Linked DNA regions of Homo sapiens: regions 1, 2, 3, 4, 5 and 6 are each linked to region 7. The links come from fine-mapping of genetic effects on gene expression. A gene starts in region 7. Each other region holds a variant in brackets. All regions are shown on one strand. Distances are from middle to middle. Region 1 has its middle 19 kb from the start of SURF6. Region 2 overlaps STKLD1 (serine/threonine kinase like domain containing 1). Region 3 has its middle 40 kb from the start of OBP2B. Region 4 overlaps LOC124902298 (a long non-coding RNA gene). Region 5 overlaps SURF6 (surfeit 6). Region 6 overlaps STKLD1 (serine/threonine kinase like domain containing 1). Region 7 holds the start of SURF1 (SURF1 cytochrome c oxidase assembly factor).

What was found. PIP is the estimated chance that this variant, and not a neighbour inherited with it, causes the effect.
Region 1: its variant is fine-mapped to the expression of SURF1 in whole blood (GTEx, PIP above 0.99). The same link has a PIP of 0.9 or more in substantia nigra.
Region 2: its variant is fine-mapped to the expression of SURF1 in whole blood (GTEx, PIP 0.98).
Region 3: its variant is fine-mapped to the expression of SURF1 in lung (GTEx, PIP above 0.99). The same link has a PIP of 0.9 or more in unexposed skin.
Region 4: its variant is fine-mapped to the expression of SURF1 in testis (GTEx, PIP 0.98).
Region 5: its variant is fine-mapped to the expression of SURF1 in whole blood (TOPMed, PIP above 0.99).
Region 6: its variant is fine-mapped to the expression of SURF1 in whole blood (TOPMed, PIP above 0.99).

The regions. Positions count from the first base shown.
Region 1 is chr9:133,315,476-133,319,541 of GRCh38, reverse strand. It overlaps the pseudogene LCN1P2. Among named protein-coding and RNA genes, the nearest start is that of SURF6, 19 kb to the left of the region's middle. The variant C/T (reference allele first, on the strand shown) is at 1,595.
Region 2 is chr9:133,401,548-133,405,613 of GRCh38, reverse strand. STKLD1 (serine/threonine kinase like domain containing 1) reads right to left here. Exons shown (of 18, transcript NM_153710.5): 13 at 3,736-3,876; 14 at 2,602-2,736; 15 at 1,786-1,914; 16 at 1,566-1,694; 17 at 685-825; 18 at 1-362. The coding sequence ends at 193. Among named protein-coding and RNA genes, the nearest start is that of REXO4, 14 kb to the left of the region's middle. RefSeq lists an enhancer at 496-996 and a silencer at 2,737-2,904. The variant C/T (reference allele first, on the strand shown) is at 1,776.
Region 3 is chr9:133,247,204-133,251,269 of GRCh38, reverse strand. It overlaps the pseudogene ABO. Among named protein-coding and RNA genes, the nearest start is that of OBP2B, 40 kb to the right of the region's middle. The variant A/G (reference allele first, on the strand shown) is at 2,331.
Region 4 is chr9:134,198,090-134,202,155 of GRCh38, reverse strand. The region is part of intron 1 of LOC124902298 (a long non-coding RNA gene); the gene reads right to left. Among named protein-coding and RNA genes, the nearest start is that of RNU6ATAC, 36 kb to the right of the region's middle. The variant C/A (reference allele first, on the strand shown) is at 2,537.
Region 5 is chr9:133,326,797-133,330,862 of GRCh38, reverse strand. It overlaps SURF6 (surfeit 6), which reads left to right. Exons shown (of 5, transcript NM_006753.6): 5 at 1-2,087. Among named protein-coding and RNA genes, the nearest start is that of SURF6, 7.4 kb to the left of the region's middle. The variant G/A (reference allele first, on the strand shown) is at 2,182.
Region 6 is chr9:133,378,546-133,382,611 of GRCh38, reverse strand. It overlaps STKLD1 (serine/threonine kinase like domain containing 1), which reads right to left. Exons shown (of 18, transcript NM_153710.5): 2 at 3,490-3,576. Among named protein-coding and RNA genes, the nearest start is that of STKLD1, 4.2 kb to the right of the region's middle. The variant C/T (reference allele first, on the strand shown) is at 1,988.
Region 7 is chr9:133,354,885-133,358,950 of GRCh38, reverse strand. It overlaps SURF1 (SURF1 cytochrome c oxidase assembly factor), which reads left to right and starts at 2,464. Exons shown (of 9, transcript NM_003172.4): 1 at 2,464-2,551; 2 at 2,631-2,682; 3 at 3,994-4,066. The coding sequence starts at 2,498. It overlaps SURF2 (surfeit 2), which reads right to left and starts at 2,401. Exons shown (of 6, transcript NM_017503.5): 1 at 2,281-2,401; 2 at 1,883-2,037; 3 at 1,137-1,240. The coding sequence starts at 2,358. RefSeq lists silencers at 2,233-2,302, 2,543-2,662.

The DNA of each region.
Region 1 (4,066 bases), 39 kb after region 7:
GGCCCCTTTCCCTCTTACTGGTCTTCTTTTGAATTTAGTTTTTAAAACAATCTTTTCAGTTTATTTGTTGTCTTATTCACTGACAGTCTTTTGTTTTCTTGTTTGTTTGTTGACTTTAACAGGTGCTTTAGGGTTTATAGTATGTCTTTAATTTATCACAGTCTACCTTCATCTAGTATAAGAACCTTACAGCTGGGCTCAGTGGCTCACGCCTGTAATCCCAGCACTTTGGGAAGTCAAGGCGGGTGGATCATGAGGTCAGGAGTTCAAGACCAGCCTGGCCAACATGGCGAAACCCCATCTCTACTAAAGATACAAAAAATTAGCTGGGTGTGGTGGTGTGTGCCTGTAATCCCAGCTACTCGGGAGGCTGAAGCAGGAGAATCATGTGAACCACCAGGCAGGAGAACTGTGCACCACCACACCTGGCTAGTTTTTGTATTTTTAGTAGAGATGGGGTTTTGCCATGTTGGCCAGGCTGGTCTCAAACTCCTGACGTCAAGTGATCCACCTGCCTTGGCTTCCCAAAGTGCTGAGATTACAGATCTGAGCCATCACACCTGGCTATTATTTTTATTATTTTACACTTTCTTCCAGAATTACTCTGTATTTAATTAGCACAATAATGACAGCAGCTGGCATCATTGAGCGTTCTCTGTCAGGTGTATCTTGCTGAGCACTGCCCCTTTGCTCTCGACTTTCATCTGAGGGTGTTGACAAGGTCGGAGAGAATGGGGGGTGGTGGAGACGGAAACCTCTGCCCCAGCTCAGCAGAAGGCTTCAGCACGCAGATCACATTCCTCAGTCCTAGGAGGAGGTGGGTGGTACCCAGCACTGCCCCTGGTAGCTCACAGGGTCTGATCCGGGGCCTTTGCCCCCTCAGGGTCCCTCCAGCTGAGGTTCTTCAGTGGCACAGTTTGCCCTCAAGGCTGCCAGTTGCCGAGCCTTGTAGGAGGGGCTGAGAGAGGCCTCCCAGCAGGTCTGCCCACCTCCCCAGCACCAGAGCTCTCCTGGGTGGGGAAAGGGAAGGCCCTAGACCAGGTTGCAGGCTGGCCGGCCGGCTGGCAGACACTCACAGCATGGTGACCTTGGCTTCCAGGTTGCCCCCTTCCAGGGTCGTGAGGGTCATGGGTGTCACCGATTCCAGATTCATCTCAGGGAACTCCCTGTCCACCGTCATGGCCTTCAGATACCACGTCCCTGACACCTGGAGAAGGCCCCTCTCTATCAGGCTCAGGCCGACCGCTCCAGAGCCTCCCCCTTCCCTGGCCTGCAGCCCCCAGACTCTACCGCACCCCACAGGCTGGAGACGGGGAACATTCCCCAATCTAATCCACCCAGAAAACACCCAGCACCCTCGCCAGGTCCACCCGAAGGTGGCTCCAGCCCCCACAAGTTGGCCAGGACCACAGGAGCCCTCACCCCCAGGAGAGAAGTGAAGTCAGCCAGACCCCCACCTTCCCAGCTCTGCCCCTCTGCATCCCTGTCCCCCCAGCCCAGACTCCTGCTGTCCCATCTCACCATCTTTCAGGGCAGGGCTTTTACGCCCAACCCGAAAATGAGGGTCTCCTTGGATGGGGGAGGGATGTGGTCT[C/T]CATCCAGCAGTCTCAGCCTCGCCCCTTGCCCCCTCCAGCCCACCCTTCCCATCCAAGCCTCACATCCTGAATCTCCTCGTCTGAGGCCAGGAGGTGGTGGGCCTGCAGGGCAGCAATGAGGCCGAGGCTGACGGCCAGGAGCAGGGGCTTCATCTCCGGGATCTGAGTCCACGGCCGCCTGACGGTTTGCTTGCTGGGGCTGGGAGAGGGTGTGCCACTCCCACAGCCACCCTTTATACCGCTGGGCTCAGGATCCCCCGGGGACCTGGCACAGGTGACTGACCAATCCCTTCCTGGATGTAAACCACGGCCAGTTCTGCAATGGAGCAGGTAACGTGCCATTGTTGCTGGAGGCTGGTGAATAACAGCTTGTTAATTCCAGAGGATCATCCGGACAGGACCAGGTCCAGAGGAGCGGGTTTGCAGATTTCACCTGGGAGGAAACTGAAGGGAGTGAAGGGCGTGCAGGCCTCCTGGGGACATGTGCGGCAGTAACAGGCGCCCCCCAGCCATCCCACACGGGCTGACGTGCACACCGTCAAGGGGGTTTGGGGTTGGAGTCCGAGGGTCGTGGGCTTGGGGCTCGGCTGAGCTTCCTGCATCTCTGGGCAGGTTACTTGGCCTCAGATTCATCATGGAAAAAAAGGGACCCTCCTGTGTGAACACGATACCGTGTGCATTTAAGGACGGTGTCCACTGTCCTGAGCAAGGTGTGCAGTAAGGACCCTCTCTGCTCCACACACAGAGCAGCAATAGGTCAGACAGACAGAAGACCAAGACAGGTGTGTGTGTGTGTATGCAGGTGTGTACATATATACATGCACACACATGCACAAACACACACACACTCACATAAAACAAGGAATGGAGGAGAAGCACAGGCTGGTGATGGGGCAGAGGCAGGGGCCTGTCAGCTCCAAGTCCCAAGGCAGGCAGAGAGGGCCTAGATCCACCTCCTGGGAGTGATGGGTGTGTCTTCCCTGACTCCAGAAAGGAGGCTGAGAAACCCTCCTTGATACATCCCAGAGCTGTAACTTCGTATAACTTAGTGGAGCACTGTGGGCATAGGAAGGCAAGAGGACATCAACACAGCCTCAAGGGCAGAAGCTGAGACAAGCCGTCCTCGGAAAGGATGACTTTATCTGTGACATGCTCTGCATCACTGCAGAGCAGAAGCCTGGGACCCAGGATGGGAGCAGAGGCTACAAAACACTGCTAGACAGAGGACAATGACAACAAGATGGCAGAGAAAGGCAGAAATGCAGAGACACAATATCCTCACCTTGAAATAAGCAAGGCCAGTTTCCAAATTACCCAAGGAAACACCACACTAAGAAAGGCAGGCTAAAAATGAGCAATTGGTACAGGAACTTACACCAGACTTTTTTTTTAAAAAGTAGTATAAAATTAGAAGTGGCCAGAATATAAAGAAATAAGGAGAGAGAAAGTAGAAATAATTATAAATTTTGAAGATGAAGAGTAGAGTGAATAAAAAACACAATAGATAGGATAAATTCCAGACTTGACATAGTAGAAAAGAGACTTAGTGTCATGGAAGATAGTACTAACATAGTCAATGAAGAAAGAAAAATTCAAAAGAGAAACTGAGGTGTTACAAATAGATTCAGAGACTCCAGCCTGTATCTAGCAATAAAATGGAGTGGAGGAAACCAACCAGAGTGCAGCAGCTTTGAAAAACACAACACACACACACATACACACACACACACAATACACACACATGCACGCACACACACATATACACACACATGCATACACACACATACACACACATGCACACATATACAAATGCACACGTACACACACTCAAAGGTAACATATATGGAGAATAGATTGAGAGGCTCTGATATAAACAGAATAGGAGTTCCCAAAGAAAAACATTTTTTAAAAATTATTATTATACTTTAAGTTTTAGGGTACATGGGCACAATGTGCAGGTTAGTTACATATGTATACATGTGCCATGCTGGTGTGCAGCACCCACTAACTCGTCATCTAGCATTAGGTATATCTCCCAATGCTAACCCTCCCCCCTCCCCCCACCCCACGACAGTCCCCAGAGTGTGATGTTCCCCTTCCTGTGTCCATGTGTTCTCATTGTTCAATTCCCACCTATGAGTGAGAATATGCGGTGTTTGTTTTTTTGTTCTTGTGATAGTTTACTGGAATGATGATTTCCAATTTCATCCATGTCCCTACAAAGGACATGAACTCATCATTTTTTATGGCTGCATAGTATTCCATGGTGTATATGTGCCACATTTTCTTAATCCAGTCTATCATTGTTGGACATTTGGGTTGGTTCCAAGTCTTTGCTATTGTGAATAATGCCACAATAAACATACGTGTGCATGTGTCTTTATAGCAGCATGATTTATAGTCCTTTGGGTATATACCCAGTAATGGGATGGCTGGGTCAAATGATATTTCTAGTTCTAGATCCCTGAGGA
Region 2 (4,066 bases), 47 kb before region 7:
CCCGGGTCCAGGAGCAGTTACTCATGTGACTCAATCCAGCAGTCATGGACAGGAAACTCTTTGGAGAGGTCTGATTACCCCTCCCGTTTAAGATTGATTTTGGCCCAGTCATAGAGATGGGATAATAGGCAGGCAGGAGAGCAGTCTTGAAAACTATACACGTGGAGATCAAGGTCAGTTCCATACAAACATCTATTCCAGTCCCCCAGACGTGGTGCACCCCAGCTGGGGGCTTCCACCTGGAGGGAGGCCTGGTTTGCTGAAGGCGCTGCTGTCACTCACCAGGCTGGAGGTGAAGCGCTCCTTGATCTCCTGGAGCAGGGCCTTCATACTACTGGACACCAGCTCCGGCAGGATCTCCTCTGCAGGTGGAGCAGGAAGGTCCTGAGGCCAGAGTCCTTCCTGTGCCCCTTGCCAGAAGCCCCAGAAGGATGAGAGTGGGTCACATTCCCCCTTGGGCTTGGCATGCACAGAGCCACCTTGCAGTTCCGGAGCCCCAAGCGTCACCCTCAGCCAGGACAACCCCTGGTGCTCAGAAGATGCCAAATGAGTGGGAAGTTTAAGTGGGCCGAGAAGTGGGGTTGAGCCCACCTTCCATGTGCTCCTTCCCTGTCAGTTATAGGGGGAGCGGGGCACCCCTGACCGCTGGGCTCTAGGGAGTGTGAGGTGAGAAGGGGTTCTCACCATAGGAAGCCAGGTGGACCAGCAGCATGCCCACGTTCTCCACCACCTCCGGGTCGTCCCTGTGGAGCTGGTAGGTCTCCTTGATGAGGCTGAGGCCACTGCCGCCCTCCTCCTGCACCACCACCTTGAAGGCCGCCAGCTCTGGGGGATGGGTGGGAGTGGGTTCATTCCCTGCTTTCCCCTGAAAGGGAAGAGCCTTCTGCCCAGGACGGGATGGGACCCCAGAGCTCACACAGGGGCCTGGGACAGGACAAGAGACGGGACCCAGGAGGCCCCATCAGCTTGGGCGGACCAGTAGGCTGGCATGACCTGAACAGGACCATGCAAGAACAGAGGAGGCAGCCCCCCCAGAGCCAAAGGGGTCGTTGTCACTCTGGGGAAGATTAGGTAGTACAGAGGTCAAGACCATGAGCCCGGAGTTGCCAGGCACCAGCTAGTGTCTTGGCCAGGCCCAGGATGCTCTCTGAAGGACTGTGCTGTGGGCCGAGCGTCGGTTGTGCTGTGCTCAGCGCTGGGCCCAGCCTGTCTAGCTGAGTAACAGGCAGGGTTTGTGTTGTGGGGAATTGGAGACACTGTTTGCAGAGCTGTTTTGATCAGTCACGGTGTGCCTGCATGTTAGGAAACCTGTGCAGATGTGATGTGTTTATGGACAGAGAGAGGGTCACAGGGTAGCATAACGCAGAGACAAGAGTTTATCAAGTGTGCGTGAAAGTCTTGATGGTGATTTCTGGATGACTGGACTTCAGATCGTTTTTAATTTCTTTTCCTTTTTGATTTGTTGCTTCTGTTTTTTGGTTTGTGGCACCTGGCAGATGTAACTGATGGGGGCTGATTCTTGCCCCCACCTCTAGGTGGCAGCCTCGTCCTGTCCCCAGGCTCACCTGACACCTTCACCAGGCTGGCCAGTCCCCGGTAGGCATTGTTCACCAGCAGGGCTCTGTCCTGGCACAGCCGGATGCTTTGCAGGAGCAGCGCCACCACTTGTTCAAACTGCTGCTCCTTGATGCAGCCTGCAGAAAGGGGCCGGGCTGCCTTGTGCCTGCTGTGCCATGAGGCCCACCCCTCCCAGCCCCAGGGGCCCAGGGCGCCCA[C/T]CCAGCTCACCCAGCAGGGACAGCAGCCAGAAGACTCCGCAGCTGGCTTCTGCCATTTCCCCATCCGCAGGGTAGGTGGCCAACACCTGGCTGATGAGGTCCGGGACCTTCTCCAAGGGGGCCTTGTTCACAATGATACCTGGAACGAGGACAGGGATGGAAGGGGACACCCAGGCCTTGGGTGTGTGCAGGGGGGCCTTCCCATCCCCCATCTGCTGCCTTCCTCCAGCTAACGACAACAGCAGAAATGGGGTGGGAAAGGTCAACTGTCCTCAGAGACGGGTGCAGGGGTTAGCCCAGGAGAGGCTTGGAGAATCCCACACTTTGGGTGCTGGCAGGGTTCTTGGGTTTCCCGGGCTTTCCGTGGTTTGGAGCTCTCTTTTTCCTGGGGCGCTGGAGTGCCAAGATGGGGTCTAGAGGAGAGGAAGCAGCACAGGCCAGGGGGCCCCCTACTGTGAATCAAAAATCAAAACAAACAGGGCATCCAGCACCACACCACCGCTGCCCTCTGGAACCAGGACTGCCCGGAAAATCCCAGGACATTTCCCTGGGCAGGAGGCACTTAAAACTGAGGGGTCTGCCCACTGGGCAAGAAGTCCTGAAACCCGGCCTCTGCCAGAAGGCCTTTCTCCCCTGCCTTTTCTCTCTCTGCTCCTTGATTTTCTTCTGTTGGAGTTGGAAGCTCTCAGAAGAGCCTTTCCCGGACTATGGCTGTTGTGTTTTAGGGACAGGACATGGAGGTCCTCGAAGGCTCTCAGGGGCAGTTAGGGAGGGGCTGGGGGAGGGCTGCCAGCCCCGGTGGGACAGCAGGAGGAGGGCCCCTCACCGTCCAGCAGGAGGGCCCAGAGCAGGCCCAGGCCGCTGGCGCAGACGTCCCTGCTTTCGAGGGAGCTGTTGAGGTGCTCCAGGATGTGCTCCAGCAGCCCAGCATTCTGCAGCTCCTCTGACAGTGACTCTGACTCTGTGGGTGAGCCAGAATGAGGGCCCCAGGGCCCCTCCCTCCAGGAAGCCTTCCTGCCTCTGTTGTCCTTGGGCACTGCAGTCCCATTTGACCTGCAATCCTAGGTGCCTGCTCTGGGCCAAGTCGTGTGCACTCAATGGAGCCCTGAACAGGAGGATGTGGGACTGGCCCCAGAGGAGTCTGTCCATCTCGTGGGCCACCAGTCCCAATAGCTGCCATCCCACTACCAGGCTGGGTCTGACCTCTGTAGCTTCCCATCCAGGGGGCCTGACCCTGCCTCCTGGGCTCACAGAGCCAGCCTGTGCCTTCCAGGATGGAACCATGACGGGGCCCTATCCCGGTAGGATGAACTGACATCCATTTTGCCTGAGGGTTCCAGTTGACATCTATTCCTAGTGCCTCCTTTCACTCCCCAAAGTGAGATCAGCCATGTATCATCAGTTATCCAGTCTGTGCAGTAAAGAGGGTGCTGGGGCCCAGACCCCAGCCCTGAACCCTGCTGCATGGACTCCTGGCAACTGTCCTTAGGCTCTCTCGAGGCCCAGCTTCCTGTTGGGGAGAACAGTGCCCACCCGATTTGTGGGTGAAGGTGTGAGCGCTCTGTATGGCCCTCTCCTTCCCACAGTCCTGGCTGGAGGCTTCGGAAGCCCACTGGGCCCTATGGAATGGAGACACACAGGGCATTTGAGCCCCAGCCTCCCAGAAGGGGCAGGAAGTGTGGGAAAGAGATGTCATTGGTGTGAAGCCCACAGCTGCGCCTAGCATGTCTGTAGAGGGAACCAGTGACTTCAAGAGTGGAAGCTTGTCATCAAGATGGAAAAGGATGCGACCAGCATTTGGGGTGGCCAAATGAAGACGGCCAAATGCCACCATGTATCTCAGGAGGAGGCCCAGCACTGTCCTGTCCAACCCACCTATACCCCAAACCAACCCTTCCAAGACCCCTGGGAAGGGCTGTCCTGGAGCGTGGGTGGGGCAGGAGGTGGCTGGCAGACACACCCTGGGTTGTGGTGATGGCTAGCAGGCTGTAGACCATGACAAGAAGTGGCTCCTCCTCGGGGTGGCTCTGAAGAGCACTCAGCAGGGTGGAGGTGATGGCTTGGTTGCAGGGAGCCTTGGCTTCCGGGTGGTGCACCAGCGCTGCTCAAGCCAGAGGAAGACGCCTGGGGTTAGCCCCACAGCTCAGGCATGGGGCCAGACACACAAGGCTCACAGGCTGGGGGATAGCATCTCCACTTTGCATGAAGGAAACCGAGGTCTGCCTTGTTCTGACCCAGAGCAGGCCTCCATGAATCCCTGTGGCCTAATGGAGTGAAGGACCGGAAGGGAG
Region 3 (4,066 bases), 110 kb after region 7:
GGTGCCCTGGGTCCCCCTCCTCACCGCCCCCCACCCCGCCGCCTTCTGAGAAGCGTTTTGTAATTTTTCTTATTTATAAAATGGGTTTGATTCAAAACTGACTTTTCCTCTTCACAGTCTCACAGGTCCTTCCCCAGGTCCAAGAGGCTCTTCTGTGTCCTGATGACAAGTAGCTGCCTAGCCGTGGTGGCACCTCCTATCACATGTTAAGGGACCCCTCCCCAGGGCCACACCTGGCAGAAGGTGGCTTATGATGTTCGCAGCTTGAAAGTAGTGTAAACCAAAGATAAAATTCTAAGCCCACTCCCCCAGCCATCGGAATGGACCCCTCCTCTTGGCCAGGGCACTCCAAAGTTAACCTGAAAAACCGGTTCAGGCTGTGAAGAGAAGGTGGAGTGGACATGCCTCATTTATGTCCTCCTCCCTTTTGGAATTCAGCAAAGCTGACCAGCATGAACATTAACACAGACCTTAAGTCTGATTAGTGGCATTTACAATCTATACTCTCTGAAGCGTGCTACCTGGAGTCTTCCTTTGCATGATAAAACTTTGGTCTCCACAACCCCTTATCATAACCTAGACACTCCTTTCTAGTGATAATAACTCTTTCAACCAATTGCCAATAAAAAAATTTTGAATCTACCTATAACCTGGAACCTCCCCGCTCCACCTTCGAGTTGTCCTACCTTTCTGGACAGAAGCAATGTGGATCTTGCATGTATTTGATTGATGTCTCATGTCTCCCTAAAATGTATACAATTAGGCTGTGCCCAGATCACCCTGGGCACATGTTCTCAGGCCCTCCTGAGGTCTCTGTCTCGGGCCATTGGTCACTCAGATTCGGCTCAGAATAAATCTCTTCAAATATTTTTCAGAGTTTGACTCTTTTTGTCGACAATAAGCTCATCAGATTAAAGCTGTTGGAACTTTAAATTACTTCGAGCCTTGAAAGAATGTGATTCTGACACCCTAGTCAAGCAGCAAGTCGCTGTGAACTTTGCTTCTCCAATTATAGATTAACGCTCTTCCTTTCTTGATTTGTAAAATGTTATGAAAGACTAAATGGCACCAGATGTAAGACCCCTTCCCTTTCTTAGTTACTGACCTTTTGTTACGAATTAACTTCTTTCTTTTCTTGCACCCAACTCAGACCAGATGGTACAAAAGACCCCATGCCTATCAAATTCCATAAGACAGTATGTTAAATATACTTTTCCCGAAGGGAACAGGATATAACCAAACAAATTGCTGCAACTCATAAGCCAATCTTATGTGGAAAATGTAATCATGCTAAACCTCCTTGTATTTTCCCATTTAAGTGAAGCCCTAATCCCTCCACCTCAGAGCACTGAGCCCATTCCTTTAGAGTCTGTGTTTTTTGAGTGGTGGTCGTCAAACTTAGAGTTCGAATAAACTCTATAACATTGGATTTTGAACCTTTCAATTATTTCAGGTGGCAGAAGAAACACACAGACCCCATCTCTTCCTTTGGAGTTCTGTACTGCTCATTTCAAAGGGATTTCATCCTGCCCTCTGTAACCACCCAAGGGGTTCCTCCTGCTCCCTTTCTAAATAAAGACCATGCATTCCAGTAAAGAAAGAGTTTAATAGACATGAGGCCAACCACATGGTAGAGAGAGTTTGTACTCAAATCATCTCATCAAAGGCTCATAGCTAGGGGTTTCTCAAGGCAGTTTGGGGGGTCAGGGGTGGCCAAGTAACAGGTACTGATTGGCTGGGGCAGACATGAACTCATGGAGGGTCAAAGCTGTCCTCCTGCAGGCTAAATCGCTTCTTAGGGGGGTGTCACAGGAGTGAGGTTGGGGGTTCCAGGTAGAGCCATGGGTATCAGACCTGCAAAAAACCTGAAAAGATATCTCAAAAGACCAATCTACAGTTGGGGAAATTGTGTATTTTGCTAGAGAGGTCTACACCTTAGCTTCTCCCTCTCGCCTCATAGCTTTTCATTAGGTTTACACAGGCAGAAGAGTTTTGGGGGAGGCCTGCTGTTATTTAAACTATAAATTAAATGTCTCCCAAGGTTAGCTCAGCCCAAAAGCCCAGGAATCATTAAGGGAAAGGAAAGATGAGGGGCGGGTTAGCTCAGCTCACTCTTACAATTTTTCTAATTGATAGAGTTTTTGCAAAGGCGGTTTCACTTTCAGCGTGGTCGTTCTCCTAACCTCTCCTGCTTCCCCAGGTCCTCACCCTAAACCAGCACCCATCCTGCACTCCCAGGGTGAACCCTCCCTTCCCTCCTGCTCACCTGGGCCCAACCCAGTTTCCCCCCAGGAGCTGCGGAAGGGCCCAGTGGTGCCACCTTGGCCTCC[A/G]GGCATCACTCTCCAACTTCTTCCCTCCTCCCTCCACAGGACCCTTGCCTCAAATGTCAGTCCCGCTGCTCTCTGCTGCACTCAGCCTCTTCCTGGCAAGTGTGCCCCTCCCCTCTTGAAGCCATCACCAGCCTCTCGTGCCCACCCCCATCTAGGCCCCCCACTCCTCTCCAGTCCCGGTGTCTTGGAAGAGCCTCTGGATCACAGGGGCTGGGAAATTCGACTTGTCATCCCCACCAAGCAAACACATGCTTCCATCCAGGGCCCCTCAGTGGGTGAAGGCTGAGCCCCAGTAAAGGATAGATCATCACTGTCAGAGGCGAGTGAACTAGAGCGACTCCATGTTGAATAGGGACTGGGTAAAATGAGGCTGAACCTTCTGCACTGCATTCTCAGGGGGTTAGGCATTCTTAGTCACAGGATAAGATAGGAGGTTGGCAGGATTAGTATCACAAGATACAAGTCACCAAGACCCTGCTGATCAAATGGGATGCAGTAAAGAAGCCAGCCAAAACCCACCAAAACCAAGATGGCGACAAAAGGAACCTCCAGTTGTCCTCACTGCTCATTATGCGCTAATTATAATACATTAGCTGCTAAAAGACACTCCCACCTGTGCCACAACAGTTTACAAATGCCATGGCAACGTCCAGAAGTTACCCCATATGGTCTAAAAAGGAGAGGGACCCTCAGTTCAGAAAAATCCCCTCCCCTTTCTTGGAAAACTCACAAACAATCCACCTGTTGTTGAGCCTATAATCCAGAAATCAGTATAAGTATACTCAGCTGAGATCCAAGAACCCTGTCTTGGGGTTTGGACTGGGACTCCTTTCTGGTAACAATACTAGGGTATACGGAGCCCCCACATCCCCGGGCAAGTGGTGCAGAAGCCGGAGCCATCAGCAGCCGCCCCTGGCAGGCTCCTGTGTGGACTCCTTGCTGCAGGGCATTTGGTTTACCAGGCGTGAGAGACCCACACGTGAAGCGCTAGCCCAGCCCCATCACCGCAGCACAGCCTCACCACTGCAGCCCAGAAAAACCACTGCAGCCCAGACACACGACTGCAGCTGAGGCCCATCACTGCAGCCCAGACACACCACTGCACCCACTGCAGCTCAGCCCACCACTGCACCCCAGCCCCACCACTGTAGCTCAGCCCGACCACTGCAGCCCAGCCCACCATTGCAGCCCAGACACACCACTGCAGCCCAGCCCACCACTGCAGCCCAGCCCCACCATTGCAGCCCAGGCCCTGCAGTTGTCCCTACTAGGTCTGAGTGGAGGAATCAGAGAGAAAACTCTGGAAAGTGCTAGACACAGGGGAGGCCCTCAAGGAATGGTGGCTGCCACTGGGAACTCTGTTTCTGTGGTGCTTACTGGACAGATAGGCTCCTTTGCAGATTTTTTTATTCCAAAACTAAGCTCCCATCACCCAGTCCTGTCCTCCCTGCTGGCAGAGCTTGTCCCTGGATCCAAGCTGTCTCCTCTGCACCAAATCCGGTGGCCTCAAGTCCCAGCTCTGCTTTGCACAGGGGCTTTTCGAAGCCCTGTCTCCCCTGCTGTGAGATGGGGGTCACCCAGCTGCCCCCCAGGGGGTGGTGTTGCTGACGGAGCAGGTGAAGACAATGCCAAGAGCTGCGCGTGGTCTGGCTTTCCCAGGCTGGATGTGCCCCTCTGATCCTCAGTCTCCCCACATGGACAATGGCTGATGCCGACCACCCACACTAGGTTTGCCC
Region 4 (4,066 bases), 840 kb before region 7:
TTGTCAGATATAAGAAATCTTTGCCAAAACCAAAACCACAAATTTTTTTCTGTTTTCTTCTAAAAGTTTTATAGTTTCAGATTTAAAAGTTAGTTTACGTTCTGTTTTTTGTTTGTTTGCTTGTTTTTTGAGACAGTCTTGCTCTGTTGCCCAGGTTGTAGTGCAGTGGCACGATATTGGCTCACTGCAACCTCCGCTTCCTGGGTTCAAGCAATTCTGCTGCCTCAGCCTCCCAAGTAGCTGAGACTACAGACGTGGGCCACCATGCCCAGCTAATATTTATATTTTCAGTAGAAACAAGGTTTCTTCATGTTGGCCAGGCTGGTCTCAAACTCCTGACCTCAGGTGATCCTCCCAAAGTGCTGGGATTACAGGCGGGAGCCACTGTGCCCGGCCTAGGTTGTGTTTTGAGTTCATTTTTGTATGTGGTGCAATGTGTGAGTCAAATTTCATTTTTTTTTTTGCATACAAATGTCCAATTGTTCCAGAATCATTTGTTTAAAAGATGGTCCTATATTGAGTTATATTGTAACTTTGATGAAAATAAATTAAGTATATATACATGGTAGTGTATTTTGGTTCCACTGATCTATTTGTATACCCTTTGCCAACACTGCACTGTCTTGATTATCATAGCTTTAAAGTAACTCTTCAAATCAGACAGTGAGAACCCTCCAAGTTTTGTTCTTTTTTCAAAGATATTTTGGCTCTTCTAGTCTATTGCCTTTCCATATACATTTTAGAATCAGCTTGTTGATTTCTATAAACACTCCTGCTGAGATTTTGATCGAGATTGTATTAAATCCCAAATTTCAGAATAATTGACAATTTAACCATATTGAGTCTTTCAATTCATGAACATAGTATATCTCTCCATTCAGGTCTTCTTTGATTTCTTTCATTGGTGTTTTTCAGTTTCAGCATAATGACATTGTACATGTTTTGTTAAATTTATACCTAAGCATTTTACAGGTTTTGGTGCTATGGTAAATGGTATTGTTTCCTTTCTAATTTCAATTTCAAAGGATTCATTTCTGGTCCACAAAATTATAATTACTTCTTTTTATATTGACCTTGTATCTTATGACATCGCTACACTTGGTTTTTTGGGTTTTTTAGAGATGGGGTCACTGTTGCCCAGGCTGGAGTACAGTGGTGCAATCATAGCTCACTGCAGCCTCAAACTCCTGGAGTTCCCACTTCAGTCTCTCAAGTAGCTGGTATTACAGGCATGAGCCACTGCACTTGACAAAATGAGCTCTGTCTAAGAAAGCTGAGTCTGGAGCAACAGACCCAGAGTAAGCCAGTCTCAAAGGTGACCAGAAACAGTGTGCTACTTTTATTATTATTATTAGAGAAAGGGTCTTACTTTATTGCCCAGACTGGTCTCAAACACCTGAGCTCAAATGATCTTCCCACACCAGCCTGTTGAGTAGCTGAGACTACAGGTGCACACCACCATGCCTGGCACACTAATATTAGTTCTAATAACTTTTTCATAGATTTTTTGAGATTTTCTATATAGATAATCATATTGAATGGAAATAGAAGCTGTTTCATTTCTTCCTCTCCAATTTGTATATCTTTTATTTCTTTTTCTGGCCTTATTCCACTGGCTAGGCTTTCCAGTACAATAATGACACTGCATACCTTTGCTTTCTTTCTGATCTTGGAAAATATTTAGTATTTCATTATTAATTAGATATTAGCTGCAGGTTTTTTGTAGATGCCTTTTATGAGGTTGAAGAAACTCCTTTCTCTTACTGGTTTGCTGAGAGGTTTTTTTCATGAGTAGATGTTGAATTTTGTCAAATGCTTTTTTCAATATCTATTAAGATGATCATATGGTTTTTCTTTTTTAATCTGTTGGTATGATGAATTACATTAATTCCTTTTTTTTTTTTGAGACAGGGTCTCTCTCTCTCTCTCTGTCACCCAGTCTGGAGTGCAATGGCACAAACACAGCTCACTGCAGCCTCAACCTCCTCAGCTCAAGCAATCCTCCTGCTTCAGCCTCCCATATAGCCAGGACCATGGGTGTGCTCCCCCACCCAGCTAATTTTTTTAATTTTTTGTAGAGATAGGGGTCTCACTTTGTTGCCCAGGCTAGTCTCCAACTCCTGGTCTCAAGTGATCCTCCCACCTTAACCCCTAAAAGTGCTGGGGTTATAGCCACCATACCTGGTCTGATTATTGTTATTATTATTATTATTATTATTATTATTATTATTATTATTATTATTGAGACAGGGTCTCGTTCTGTTGCCCAGGCTAGAGTGCAGTGGCTCACTACGGCCTCAACCTCCTCGGGCTCAGGTGATCCTCTCACCTCAGCCTCCCGAGTAACTGGGATTACAAGTGTGCATCACCATGCCCATCTAATTTTTTTTATTTTTCATAGAGACACGGTTTTGCCTGTTGCCCAGACTGGTCTCCAACTCCTGGGTTCAAGTGATCCACCCACCTTGGCCTCCCAGTGCTGGAATTACAGATGCGAGCCACTGCACCCAGCCCTGATTGTTTTTTGAATGTTGAA[C/A]CAGACTTGCATCCTTGCATAAACCTCATTGGTCAGATGTGTTATCCTTTTCATATATTGCTGGATTTGATTTGCTGGTATTTTATTGAGGATTTACGTGTCTTTGCTCATGGGGAATATTGCTCTATAGCTTTCTTTTTCTTTTTTTTTTTTTTTTTTTTTTTGCAATGTCTGGTTTTGATATCAATGTAATGTTGGCCTCATAAAAAGGGTTGGTAATTGTTCCCTCCTCTTCCATTTTCTGGAAGAGATAGTGTAGAGTTGGCATTAATTCTTTCTTAAGTATTGGTAGAATTCACAAGGAAAGTCGTCTAGGCCCAGAGTTTGTATTGTTGTTAGGTTTTTAACAACAAATTTAATTTCTTTAATTTATATGGTACCATCTATTTTTTCTTGAATGAGCTTTGGTAACTGTCTTTCAAGGAATTTGCCCATTTTTTCTAAGTCGTAAAATGTGGGAACATAAAATTGTTTGTAACATTCTTTTTGTTTATTTCTTTAGAGACAAGGTCTCTCTCTGTCATCCAGGCTGGAGTGCAGTGGTGCGATCATAGCTCACTGCAGACTCTAACTCCTGGGCTTAAGCAATCCTCCCACCTCAGCCTACCAAGTGGCTGGGACTATAGGCCCACACAATCATGCCCAGCTATTTGTCTGTTGGCTTGGTTTTTGTAGGAAATCCTCTTGCAGTGTTCTCTATCTCATCATCTACCTAATTACAGAAACCAGAAACCAGAAACCTCAAACCCTCACCCCCAAATCTAGTCTGTCCCTACGTTAGTTGATGTGATCACTTTACACTGTTTATCCCATCAGACTTTCCTCCAGAAGCTGCCATCACCACCAGCACCAGCGCCAGCACCAGCTCCTTAATGCACATCATTGCCTACATGATTAAGGTGGCTTCTAACTACTCTGCCCACCTTGCTCCAGCAACTCTCCTATCTACTCTATGGAGGGGAGCTGGAATGAACCTTCCAAAAGTCACAAACCTGACTGCATCATCCCCCTGCTTAAAACTCTCCAAATATTTTCTATCGTTTTATTGTTTTAATACCAACTTTCTTTTTTTTTTTTTTTTCTTTTTCTTTGAGACAGGGTCTTGCTCTGTCACCCAGGCTGGAGTACAGTGGTGCGATCACAGCTCACTGTAGCCTCTAACTCCCAGGATCAAGTAATCCTCCTGCCTTAGCTTCCTGAGTAGCTGGGATGACAGGCACAACCACCAAGCCCAGCTAATTAAAAAAAATTTTTTTTGTAGAGACAGGGTCTTGCTATGTTTCCAGGCTGGTCTCAAACTCCTGGCCTCCCAAGTGATCCTCCTGCTTTGTCCTCTCAGGGCACTGGGATTACAGGTATGAATCACCACGCCCAGCCTATAATGTTCTGTATTAACCTTTAAATATCTGTAGGATCTGTAATGATATCCCCTCTTTCATTTCTGATATTGGTAATTTGTGTCTCTTTTTTTCTTGATCAGTCTGATCAGAGCCTTGTCAATTATATTAATCTTTTCATAGAAGCAACTTT
Region 5 (4,066 bases), 28 kb after region 7:
AAAGAATACATACTCTTTCCATGCATATATGGAACATGGATGGAAACTGACCACCTACTTTGTCCAGAAAAGAAGTCTTAAGATATTTCAAGGAATCAGTGTCGTTATCTGACCGTATCCCAATGTCATTAAAAAAAATTTGAGCTATTTTTTTTTGTTTTTTAGATAGAGTCTTGCTCTGTCACTCAGGCTGGAGTGCAGTGGCATTTCATATTTGGAATTTTTAAAACACACTTATAAATTACCTATGAGTTAAAGAATTCCGAATGGCTATTAGAAATATTTGGGACTAAAGGATAATGAAAATGCTACGTATTAAAATTTGTGGAACAGGGCCTGGCATGGTGGCTCATGCTGTCAATCCCAGCTCTTTGGGAGGCGGGTGGATCACTTGAGATCAGGAGTTCAAGGCTAGCCTGGACAACATGATAAAACCCCATCTCTATTAAAAATAAAAAATTAGCTGGGTGTGGTGGTGCAAACCTGTAGTCCCAGCTGCTTGGGAGGCTGAGGCGGGAGAATCACTTGAACCCAGGAGGTAGAGGCTGCAGTGAGCCAAGATCGAGCCGCTGCACTCCAGCCTGGGTGACAGAGCAAGACTGTCTCAAAAAGAAAAAATTTAAGATTTGTGGAACAGAGCTAAAGCAGCACAAAAAAACATAGCCCCTAAATGTATGTGCATCTACAGATAAATAGTGCCATTTATACACACATACGCTGTATGTCTGTATTTTTAAAGCTAAAGAAAAATAAGCATGCAGCTTAAGTTGGAACAACTCAAAGTAAATGGAAGAAAAATCTCCAAAACTGACTAAAAGTAATAGAAAGCCTGAGTTGTAATCACTGATGAAATTGAGTCAGTAGTTAAGAATGTTCCCCTAGACGGTTTTACAGGGAAGTTCCACGATATAGAGAACAGGTAATTCCAGACGTAGACAAATTCTAACAGAATCAATTGAGAGAACACTTCATTCGTGAACTTAGCTTTGATACCAAAACTAGGTAAGAGAAAGGGAAGTTACCAAATACCTGTGGGCGGCAAGCCACCCAGGCGCCGAGGCAAGAGACAGAGGACACGAGCTGTTCCAGTATAATAAAATATAAAACAAGAATAGTTACAGCAGATATAGATCTTAGATATGATTACATATGAATATCATTAATCATTAGTTTGTAGCAATTACCTTTTATTCCAATATTATAATAATCCTCGCTCTATAATCATAGCCTAGGAAAAACCAGGCCATACAGAGATAGGAGCTGAGGGGACATAGGTGTGACCAGAAGACAAGAGTGCGAGCCTTCTGTTATGCCCGGACAGGGCCACCAGAGGGCTCCTTGGTCTAGCGGTGACGCCAGCGTCTGGGAAGACGCCCGTTGCCAGGTGGACCATGGTCTAGCAGTAGCAAAAAGTATCAAGGAACAACACCCGCTACTTAGCAGACCGGGAAAGGGAGTGTCCCTTTCCCTGGAGGAGTTTAGAGAAGACTCTGCTCTTCCACCTCTTGTGGAGGGCCTGACATCCGGCAGGCCTGCCCGCAGTTATCTGGAGGCCTAACCGTCTCCCTGTGATGCTGTGCTTCAGTGGTCACGCTCCTAGTCCGCCTTCATGTTCCATCCTGTACACCTGGCTCTGCCTTCTAGATAGCAGTAGTAAATTAGTGAAAGTACTAAAAGTCTCTGATATGCAGAAGTAATGGCATAAGCTGTCTTTCTCTCTGTCTCCTCTCTCTCTCTGCCTCGGCTGCCAGGCAGGGAAGGGCACCCTGTCCAGTGGACACGTGATCCACGTGACCTTACCTATCATTGGAGATGACTCACACTCTTTACCCTGCCCCTTTTGCTTTGTATCCAATAAATAACAATGCAGCCAGACATTCGGGGCCACTACCGGTCTCCGAGCATTGGTAGTAGTGGTCTCCCGGGCCCAGCTGCCTTTTCTTTTATCTCTTTGTCTTGTGTGTGTATTTCTACACTCTCTCATTGCTGCACACAGGGAGGGAGAGACCCACGGACCCTGTGGGGCTGGTCCCTACAAATACCAATGTCAAGATTTTAGACAATAATAAACCAAGTTTAGCAAAGTGCCACACTGGATTTAATTCAGAATTGCAAAGCAGTTTCAATGCCAGAGAATCAAGAGTGTAATTCATATCAATAGATTAAAGGAGCAAAACCCAC[G/A]TGACCATCTCAATGGTTGCAGAACAGGAACACAGTAAATGACGCGACAGCCATTTATAACGAGTTTTTAGCAAACTAGGAATTAAGGTATTTCCTTACTCTGATAAGGGGATTTGGAGCCAGGCATGGACCCATCTTGAAACTACATTCTGGGTCAGGCAAATGTAGATGTATTGGAGGGAAAGACATCCCCATGGGTTCCCAAGAGGTGAAGTCATCATAGTGAACTAAGGGGCCAGTGAGGGTCTGGAAAAGGCCACTGCCATCACCTGGCTACAGAGACTGAAGAGGCGGGGGGGGGTCTCGTCCTGAGCAGAGACAGGACAACTGGGTGGGCCAGTGAGGGCTGCAGGTGGGGGAAGCTGAGAACCCAGCAATATTTTACTGCCACTGGATGTCTGCACAAGGAACCTATGCCAGCCAGGGAGGTTGAGAGTGAGGCTCAGTGGGGACTGGCATACTGGCTGAGTGGATGCAGTCATTGAGCAACGCATGTCATGCATGGCGTGGGCCATCACTCTGCTGGGTGAAAGTTTCAGGAGCGAATGAGACCCAGCCCTAGCTCTCAAGGAACCCATAGTCTCATAGGTAGTGGTCCTGCAAAGTGGCCAGGGAAAGGATCGGGGTGCAGGGTGCTGAAGTCACATGGAAAGTTGTGAACGTTGCCGGTACCAAAATGGAGTCACTTATGTCAAACTAAAACAGTTGGAGGTGATGAAGCAGCCCTCACGCACACATTCCTGCAACAGGACTTACCACAAGACATTTCTACAAACAGACCAATAACAGGACTCACTGCAAGACCATCCTCAACGGTTGCAGTATTCCAGATAAGCTGCTATTCCCAAATCCATTTATTTTAGAGAGTCTATCTCTGGATTTCTTCATAGGTTGACTGTGTCATGTAGGATTCAGTATAGTGAACAAAGATTGGGGAAAGGCAGACCCCAGGCAGAAGATCAGAGGCAAGGGGGACAGTCATGCATTTGTAAGGTCTAAAAAGTTCAGTCTGCTTTTGTGATACCTGACGAATTTTCATATGTTGTGTTTTCATTCAGTTCAAAATACTTGCTAATTTCCCTTTGATTTATTCTTTGGCTAATGAGTTATTTAAAGGTATGTCATTTAGTTTCCAAATATTTGGGAATTTACCAGAGATCTTTCTGTTACTGATTTCTAGTTGAATTTCATTGTGGTCAGAGAACATACTTTGTATAACTTGAGTCCTTGGCTGGGGCGTGGTGGCTCACACCTGTAATCCCGATACTGGGAGGCTGAGGCAGGAGGATCATTTGAGCCCAGGAGATTGAGGTCAGCCTGGGCAATGCAGCGAGACCCTGTCTCTACAAAAAAATTTAAAAAATCACCCTGGGGCGGTTGCCCACGCCTATGCCTATAGTCCCAGCTACTCAGAAAGCTGAGGTGGGAGGATCACTTGAGCCCAGGAGGTTGAGGCTGCAGTGAGCCATGTTCCTGCCACTGCACTCCAGCCTGGGCAACAGAGTGAGACCGTGTATCAAAAAACAACAAAAAACCACTTGAATCTTTTTGAAGTTAACAGGGTTTGTTTCATAGCCCAGACTGTGGTCTCTCCTGGTAAATGTTCTGTGTGTGCTCGAGAAGAATGTTTTCTGCTCTTGTTGAGTCAAGTGTTTTAATGTCAGGTCCAGTGGAGTTCAAGTTCTGTATCCTTGCCAATTTTCTTTTCTTTTTTCTTTCTTTCTTTCTTTTTTTTTTCTTGAGACAGAGTTTTGCTCTTGTTGCCCAGGCTGGAGTGCAATGGCGCGGTCTTGGCTCACTGCAACCTCTGTCTCCTGGGTTCAAGCAGTTCTCCTGTCAGCCTCCTGAGTAGCTGAGATTACAGGCATGCGCCACCATGCCCGGC
Region 6 (4,066 bases), 24 kb before region 7:
TGACCACCATCACCATCATCACACCATCACCATGACCACCATCACCATCATCACACCATCACCACCATCACCATTATCATCACCATCATCATCACCATCATCACTGCCACCACCATCACCACCACTACCACCATCATTGCCACCTCCATCATCACCACCATCATCACTATTTAGCAGGAGTGACAGGCTCCCACCATTCCTGCCCCCACCATATGGCACAAATGGAAGATATTCCTAAGGCAGAGATCTAAAAATACTTAGAGCAATGAGAACATCTTTGCTCCTTTTGCAAAGATAAGTTTAGGACAGCATAATATACGCTCCAAGAACTCAGTAAAGGATCCATTTTCAGACCGTCTTTAAACAGGAACATCTTGTTCTGGTTGGGAAAGCATCAATCTCACCACTTCATTCCTTACCCACATGGGGAAGGTTGTCTCCACGCATGGAATGTACAGTGCTCTTCTCTCCTGTGCCCTCTCCGGGTGGAGGTGGGGAGGGCATGGAAAGGGAAGGGTGGTGGCAAGGGCAGCACGGAGCTTTGAGTCTGCAGCACGCTTGGTGGCACAGGCCCTAGGTATATACTACCACTGGCTCTAATACCAGATCCTCACCCAGAATTTTGCTCAAAAGACTTATGAATGAAGTACTCTTATAATGGGGTGAATGCAGACCATCATGTAAAGTTAGTGAATTGTTCCCAGATCTATGGAGAGACCTGAGATGCCAGTGGCACTGTCCCGTGGAATCCAGGGCAAAGACACTGAGTGAGCCTTCCTGTCTTCCTTTCCTCCTGTCCTAGGGGGCATATGAGGAGGTGAAGTTGGCCAAAACATGGAAAGACTTGAAAATGTTACATTGTGGCCGGGCACAGTGGCTCACGCCTGAAATCCCAGCACTTAGGGAGGCCGAGGCAGGCGGATCACCTGAGGTTGGGAGTTCGAGACCAGCCTGACCAATATGGAGAAACCCTGTCTCTACTAAAAATACAAAATTAGCCGGGCGTGGTGGCACATGCCTGTAATCCCAGCTACTTCGGAGGCTGAGGCAGGAGAATCACTTGAACCTGGGAGAAGGGGGTTGCAGTGTGCCGAGATCACGCCATTGTACTCCAGCCTGGGCAACAAGAGTGAGACTCCGTCTCAAAAAAAAAAAAAAAAAGCGGCTGGGTGGGGTGGCTCACGCCTGTAATCCCAGCACTTTGGGAGGCCGAGGCAGGCGGATCATCTGAGGTCGGGAGTTCGAGACCAGCCTGACCATCCTCTCCATGTTGATGGAGAAACCCCGTCTACTAAAAATACAAAATTAGCTGGATGTGGTGGCACGTGCCTGTAATCCCAGCCACTCAGGAAGGCTGAGGCAGGAAAATCGCTTGAATCCGGGAGGCAGAGGTTACAGTGAGCTGAGATCACACCACTGTACTCCAGCCTGGGCAACAAGAGCAAAACTCCATCTCAAAAAAAAAAAAAAAAAAAAAAAAGTTACATCGTATGACCCAGAAATCTCACTCCTAGGAATTTTTCCTAAGGAAATCATGGATGCTAAACAAAACAAAACAAAACAAAACAAAAAAACAAACAAAACCATAATGCCATAAGCATCTTTATCAGAGCTGTTTACACAAAGTGAAAAATTGAGAACAAGCTCAATGCTCAGCCCATGTGATAGGGATGGCTTGGGTTAGTTACAGCACATCAAGCAAGACGGGAGGCCACACAGTTGCCAGAGCCAAGAGAGGAGGAGGCTGTGGGAATGACATGAAACTATGTTTGCAATATAAAAAGGATGCTATCAACTTTAACGATACCATTCTCCTGAATCCAAAAAAGTTTACAAACGCTTAGGAAAAAAGACTGGAAGAACCCATAAACTCCTACCTACACTCTCTTTCCCCAATTTTTATTTAGAAATAATTGGGTGATATTTTTATTTTTAATTTAATTAATTAATTAATTAATTTAGACAGAGTCTCGCTGTGTCACCCAGG[C/T]TGGAGTGCAGTGGCGCAATCTCGACTCACTGCAACCTCCGCCGCCCGGGTTCAAGCAATTCTCCCGCGTCAGCTCCCAAGTAGCTGGGACTATAGGCACCCACCACCATGCTCAGCTAATTTTTGTATTTTTAGTAGAGATGGGGTTTCACCATGTTGGCCAGGCTGCTCTCAAACTTCTGACCTCAAGGGATCTGCCTGCCTCGGCCTCCCAAAATGCTGCGATTACAGGGATGAGCCACCATGCCTAGTCATGGCTGACATTTTTAAAAGCTCCTCAGGCCGGACGCGGTGGCTCATGCCTGTAATCCCAGCACTTTGGGAGGCCGAGGCGGGCGGACTGCCTGAGCTCAGGAGTTCCAGGAGTTCGAGACCAGCCTGGGCAACACGGTGAAACCCTGTCTCTACTAAAATACAAAAAATTAGCCGGGCGTGGCAGCGTGTGCCTGTAGTCCCAGCTACTTGGGAGGCTGAGGCAGGAAAATTGCTTGAACCCAGGAGGCAGAGGTTGCAGTGAGCTGAGATCACACCACTGCACTCTAGCCTTGGCGACAGAGCAAGACTCCATCTCCAAACAAAAAAAAAAGCTCCTTAACTGCTCAGAGGGCAGTCAGCCACACTGCCCCAGTGGCTTGTGAGACAAGGGGGCCAACCCCACAGCCAGCCAGCAAGGGAGCAGGGCAGGGGCAAGGACTCCAGGCCCAGCCATACAGGGTGAGACTGCGGAGCTGTACGGACTGAGGCCTGGCCCAGTAGCAGCTGCTGACAAGGCTCCTCCCGCTGTATGGCCAGCCCTGAACCTGCTGGGTCCCTGCCACCACCACAGAGAGGAGGGCATGCCAGGGACTCTTGCAGCAGCTTTCTCACCCTAGTCCCTCTGTTGATCTGGACCTCCCTGTCTCGGACACACAAAGGGCTGTCTTCCTGCAGGCCTACACCTCCCCATGCCCTGCTAGCCCTGGTGAGGAGTGTGGTGGAAGGGCTCAGGGCCTGGTGTGTGACCTTAGCCCTGTGTGACCTTGAGCCAGTCCCCATCCTCTCTGGGCCTGGCTCCCTTTTGGTAAAACTGGTGACCCAGCACTGGGTAGCACGGTGTCCCCCAGTGAGGTGGCCTGAATTCAAATCCTCTTGGAAATTGTGTGACCTTGCCTAGTCTGGCGCTGCATTGAGCCTCACTGTCTTTGGCTATAAACAGGGTCATTGTTTCTGCTTTACAGGGTTGACGGGAGATGAAGTGAGTCAGTGCCTGGCATACAGCACGTGATGCGTAAATGGTGGGAGGTGGTGGTGTTGGAGTAAAAATTAGCATTGCTTCCCCATCAAGGTGACAGAGCTTCACGCACCCCCACATCTACCCCAACCAGATTAGTCTCCGCAAGTGTCAGCAGCGAGGAATCCAGCTGCCGCATCAGGAAGCTTCTCCAACATGGGAAGAGCTTGTATTGGGGAAAATCACAGTCACAGAACCACCCGGCATGGGATGCACAGGCTTGGCCTCTTACCTGCTTTATCACATGCTTGACTTTGGTTTCCATTTCCTCCACCACCAGGTTCACCCCCAAGGCCCCAGGATTCAGCTGGTACAAAACCTATCAGCAAGGAAGAGAGAAGCTTTCAGGAAATGCACACAACTTTTCCCTTTCCAAAAGCCCAGCTCCAACTCCTTTTCTGGCCCTGCTAACTCCCCTGTCAGGCTGGCAGAGCAAGTGGCTCCACCCCATCTTGCAATAGAGGAAATGGCCCAAGGAGGGCAAGAAGCCTTTCAATGGCAGAACTCTGATCTCACCTATTTGGGGCCGATTCTGGAGCTCTTCTACAACCCTGTATCCCTCCCCCAACCTGCAATGAGGACCAGCTGGGCACTCAAGTGCAAGAACCTCCCAGAGAAAAAGGGCTTATTCACTCTCTATAGACCTCTGTGACCTCAACTTCCAGCATCCACCTCCCAACTGGTTTCCAACAAGAAAGTAACCAATCTTGTGACTGGTACAATCAGGAAGCCATTGTGTGCCTGGCATGGTGCCAAGCACTTCACAGCCACCCTTTGCAGTTGACACCATTGCTACCTCTGTGTTTACA
Region 7 (4,066 bases):
CTTCTCAATCCACACTCATGCTTCGGGAGGGCTGGACTGCCTCTCCGCACTCATCAGAAGCCCGTAGACGCATCTTCCCATCCGCAAACCAACCTGAATCTGTCCGCTCCAGCCTCTGTCCATTTCCCTCCTTAGCTGGACTCCAGAAAGGCTTTCTGGTGACCCAGCACCTGCCTAAGGCCGGACACTGCCCTCATGGGCTGCAGCCTACGCTCCACTCTAGCCAGGTGTCCCTGCCAAGCTTCAGGTGCCTCACCAAGGTTGCCAGGGGCCTCTGTGTTATCAAATCTATCATTTTTCTGTCCTCATCTTCCCTTCAGTACCACGGGAGGACTTCCAGCCTCTTCCTGGGGCTCAGGACCAGGCCTCTCTCCCTTCTCTAAACTCTCGCCGGGTGCTCACCCAGATCCACGGTGCAACCATCTCCTTCATCCAGCACGGGTGTCCCTGTTTCAAAAGCCCGATACTTCCCTAATACACACCTTTCCTAATACAGCTCAAGCTTAAAACCTTCAAAGGGACTCTGAATTCTCCCCCCAAAACCCACCGTCTTTTCCTGGATGACCGCAGTCAAGGAGTCCTCCCTTCTCAACCATGCACACTGTCCATGCAGCCCCCACCCAACCCTCTCCACACACCCACTGCAGTGCTCCTGGCCTGGTCTCTGGGTCATCCGGGCTGTGCACACTAGCCCAGCCAGTCCTTTGGAGCCTACCTCAGCCAACACATTTTTGCCTCAGACTTCCATGGACCCTGGCTTCTCCCTGGGGTGCTGTTCCCCCGACCCCACTGCCACCACATCCCTCCAGCCTCAGCCTCGAGCGAATCCCTCAGCGAGTCTCCCCAGCCCTCCTGTCTCCGCAAGCCCACCCCACATCCCTCGCCCAGTTTCTTTCACACCTCGCATTGCCACGCACACTCACTCACTCCCGAGCCTGCTTCTGGCTCTGTGCCTGCCTGCACTAAAAGCTGTGGGGTCAGGGGCCATCATCCCTCTCTTCACTGTGCCAAAAAACAGGCCTGATGCATCAACACGGATCGCTGAAGGACGACCTGCCTTCAAGCACGCTCCATCTGGGGCAAGGCGGGCATGCACTCAGATGGCGATGCACTGATGGGGGTCCACTGGGACTTACATTTACACAGAGCTCGCTGGTACCGCCGGCCCTGGGTGTGCCTCAGCACGTGTTCTGGGCACTTGTTGATGTGCCGCAGGGTGAGTTTGCAGAACAACTGGTGCCTACAGAGCAGAGAGACCAAATTTGTAGGGACAGTTCACAGCAAGGATTCAGACTGGTGGCTGTGTCTTGGACTCATCCCTGGACAGTCTACCATGCGGCTTGGACATCGGGCTTTTAAAGGCTCCCGGAGCAATTCCACTCTGAAGCTGGGTGGGGAACCGTCTGACCCAGGCCGACTGCAGCCTCTTAATGTTTACCGGAAAAGCACGCATGGCAGCCTCACTGACTGCTCCAGGATGAGTTCATGCAAGAGGATGGCTCCACCTGGAGCAAGGGCTCAATGAATGGAAACATCCTATCTCTGTTTTGACGATTATTACAAAGCCTAGCTCCCAGCTAAATCAAAGACCCCTTCTGGGGTTAAGGGAAGAACCCAACGCTGTTCACAACCTCAGGTGACAAATCACAAGCCTCTACTCATCTGGGAAGCAGCCACACCCCACAGGACAAACCTCAGGTGAGCAAACGAGCTCACCAAGAGGCCTCGCCGCTGGGACCGCAGGTGATTCCAGCACCCGGGCGCCCACCTGGGTCCCAGGGCTCCCAACTCTGAAAGAGTAGGGGCTGCAGCACTGGCGGAGTCCAGCGGAGGGGCTGTCCTAATTGCCCTGGGCCTCCCCGCGCCGCCGCGGACCACCTACGGGTTCTTGGTGCTGGGCACGATGTGCGGCTCGAACTCTGCATAGTCGAAGGCCGGGGAGGCGCGGACCAGCCGCTGGTACTTTTTGCCGCGGGTGTAGACCTGGAGCTCCGGCAGGCGGCAGGGCAGCTCGTGACCTGTCAGGATGCACCTCACCTGCGGACGCGTGGGCGGGCAGGACGTCAGGAGGGCCAGGGCTCCGCTCCCTGGTGCCCCCTCCTGCCGCGCCCCCTTCCCTCTCCTCCCCTGATCCCGCCGCGCCCTCTCCCCTGCCCTCCCCTCTCTCCTGCTCTCCCCTCTCCCCTCTCCCCTGCCCTCTCCTCTCCCCTGCCCTCCCCTCAGCCCCTCATCCCAACTGCGCCCTTCTCCGCCACTCCGTTCCCCTCCCGCGCTGCGAACCTTGCGGGCGTCCGTCTGGAGCCGCAGGCTCGGGTGCTCCCGCAGAAACGCCCGCACGTCGCCCGGCAACTCGCTCATGGCCGACGCGCCCGCGGAGCAGCCCGGCGGAAGCCGCTCGCAGAACCTGGAGCCGGGGGCGGGGCTCTGGGCGGGACTCAGCGGCGCCCCGGATGCAGATGCTTCCTGCGTCCCGGAAGCGCCCGCGGGGCCGGGTGCGATGGCGGCGGTGGCTGCGTTGCAGCTGGGGCTGCGGGCGGCGGGGCTGGGACGGGTGAGCGCCGGGTGCGGGGTGCGGGGTGCGGGGCGCGGGGAGGGGTCCCGGAGCTCAGCCCGCCCGTCCGTGTCCGCAGGCCCCGGCCAGCGCCGCCTGGAGGAGCGTCCTCAGGGTCTCCCCGCGCCCAGGTGAGGGCTGCAGGCCGGGCTGTGATCCAGGCGCCTGGGCAGAGCCACCTGCTGTCTGCCCTGCACTTTGAAGGGTTGTCGTGGGGATTGAAATGAACCAACTGCCGGCTGAGCGGAGGCTCCCTGGGAGTGACAAGTTCCGTATTAAAATGCTTTCAGTGGAATTGTGGTCGTGTGCCGGGCATGTAGCGAGCGCTTTGTCCTCACAACGCGAGAGGTAGCTCCTTGGTCGTTCCCCTGTTACAGAGAAGGCTCGAGAGTTACTTCCGAACGTCCCATCCAGCTAATGGGTGGCCAGCCCAGGCTGAAAGCCCAGGGCTCTGAAAGTAAAGCGTATCTAACCACCGCGGCTTACGTGTTCCTCTCAGTGTGCAGCACAGGGCTGTTTTGCCGTGTGTAGAGTGCTGTGCAAGCCTGCCCCAGGCCTGCCTTTTTATAAAAAAAAAAAAAAAAATAGTATCCGCAAGGCCCCTGGTGCTTTTCAGCGGATGGAACTCATCCTCTGAGAGCTTAAAGGCACTTTCTGTGTACATTCTTCCCTCTTTACATTTACGATGAGTTGTAAAAATGGAAAGCTGTTAAGAGAGCTCTGTGAGCCATTACTGAATTGATATATTTTTCTACATAACACAACAACCACTAGTGCCTGACTAAGCTACTTAGTAACTGTAGCTGCTTATTTTTTATTTTTTGAGACAGTTTCGCTCTTGTTGCCCAGGCTGGAGTGCAGTGGCGCAATCTCGGCTTACAGCAACCACCTCCTCCCAGGTTCAAGCGATTCTCCTGCCTCAGCCTCCCGAGTAGCTGGGATTACAGAAGCACCATCGTGCTCAGCTAATTTTTGCATTTTTTTGTAGAGATGGGGTTTCTGCATGTTGGTCAGGCTGGTCTCGAACTCCTGATCTCGTGATCCGCCCGCCTTGGCCTCCCAAAGTGCTGGGATTACAGGCGTGAGCCACCGTGCCCGGCCAACTGTAGCTGCTTATTAAATGCATTTTGAATGGATGAATGGTGCATCTTAGTGCAGTGGAATACATCTAGATTCTTGAGTAAAAAGGCATGAGTTACTCAGGGTCGTGGTTGGTGGTCAAACCGGCACTGAGCCCTAGATCCCACTTACTCACTTGGCAGACGTACTGTGTGTGCCTTGTTCTGGGCACCGGGTTAGGAGCTGGGCTGGATACAGGTGCTGCTAGTTGGCTCTAGGCAGCAGGTTTTGATTGGCAGTACTGGAGTCTGTCTTGGAACGGGCTGCTCCAGGTCTGTGTTCGAGGGCTTCTGGCTCCATGTCAGTGTTGTGAAACTCTCCAGGGGTGGCCTGGAGGCCAAGCAGATGTGGCAGTTCTGCAGCAGAAGCATCTGCCACAAAAGCGGAAGATGACTC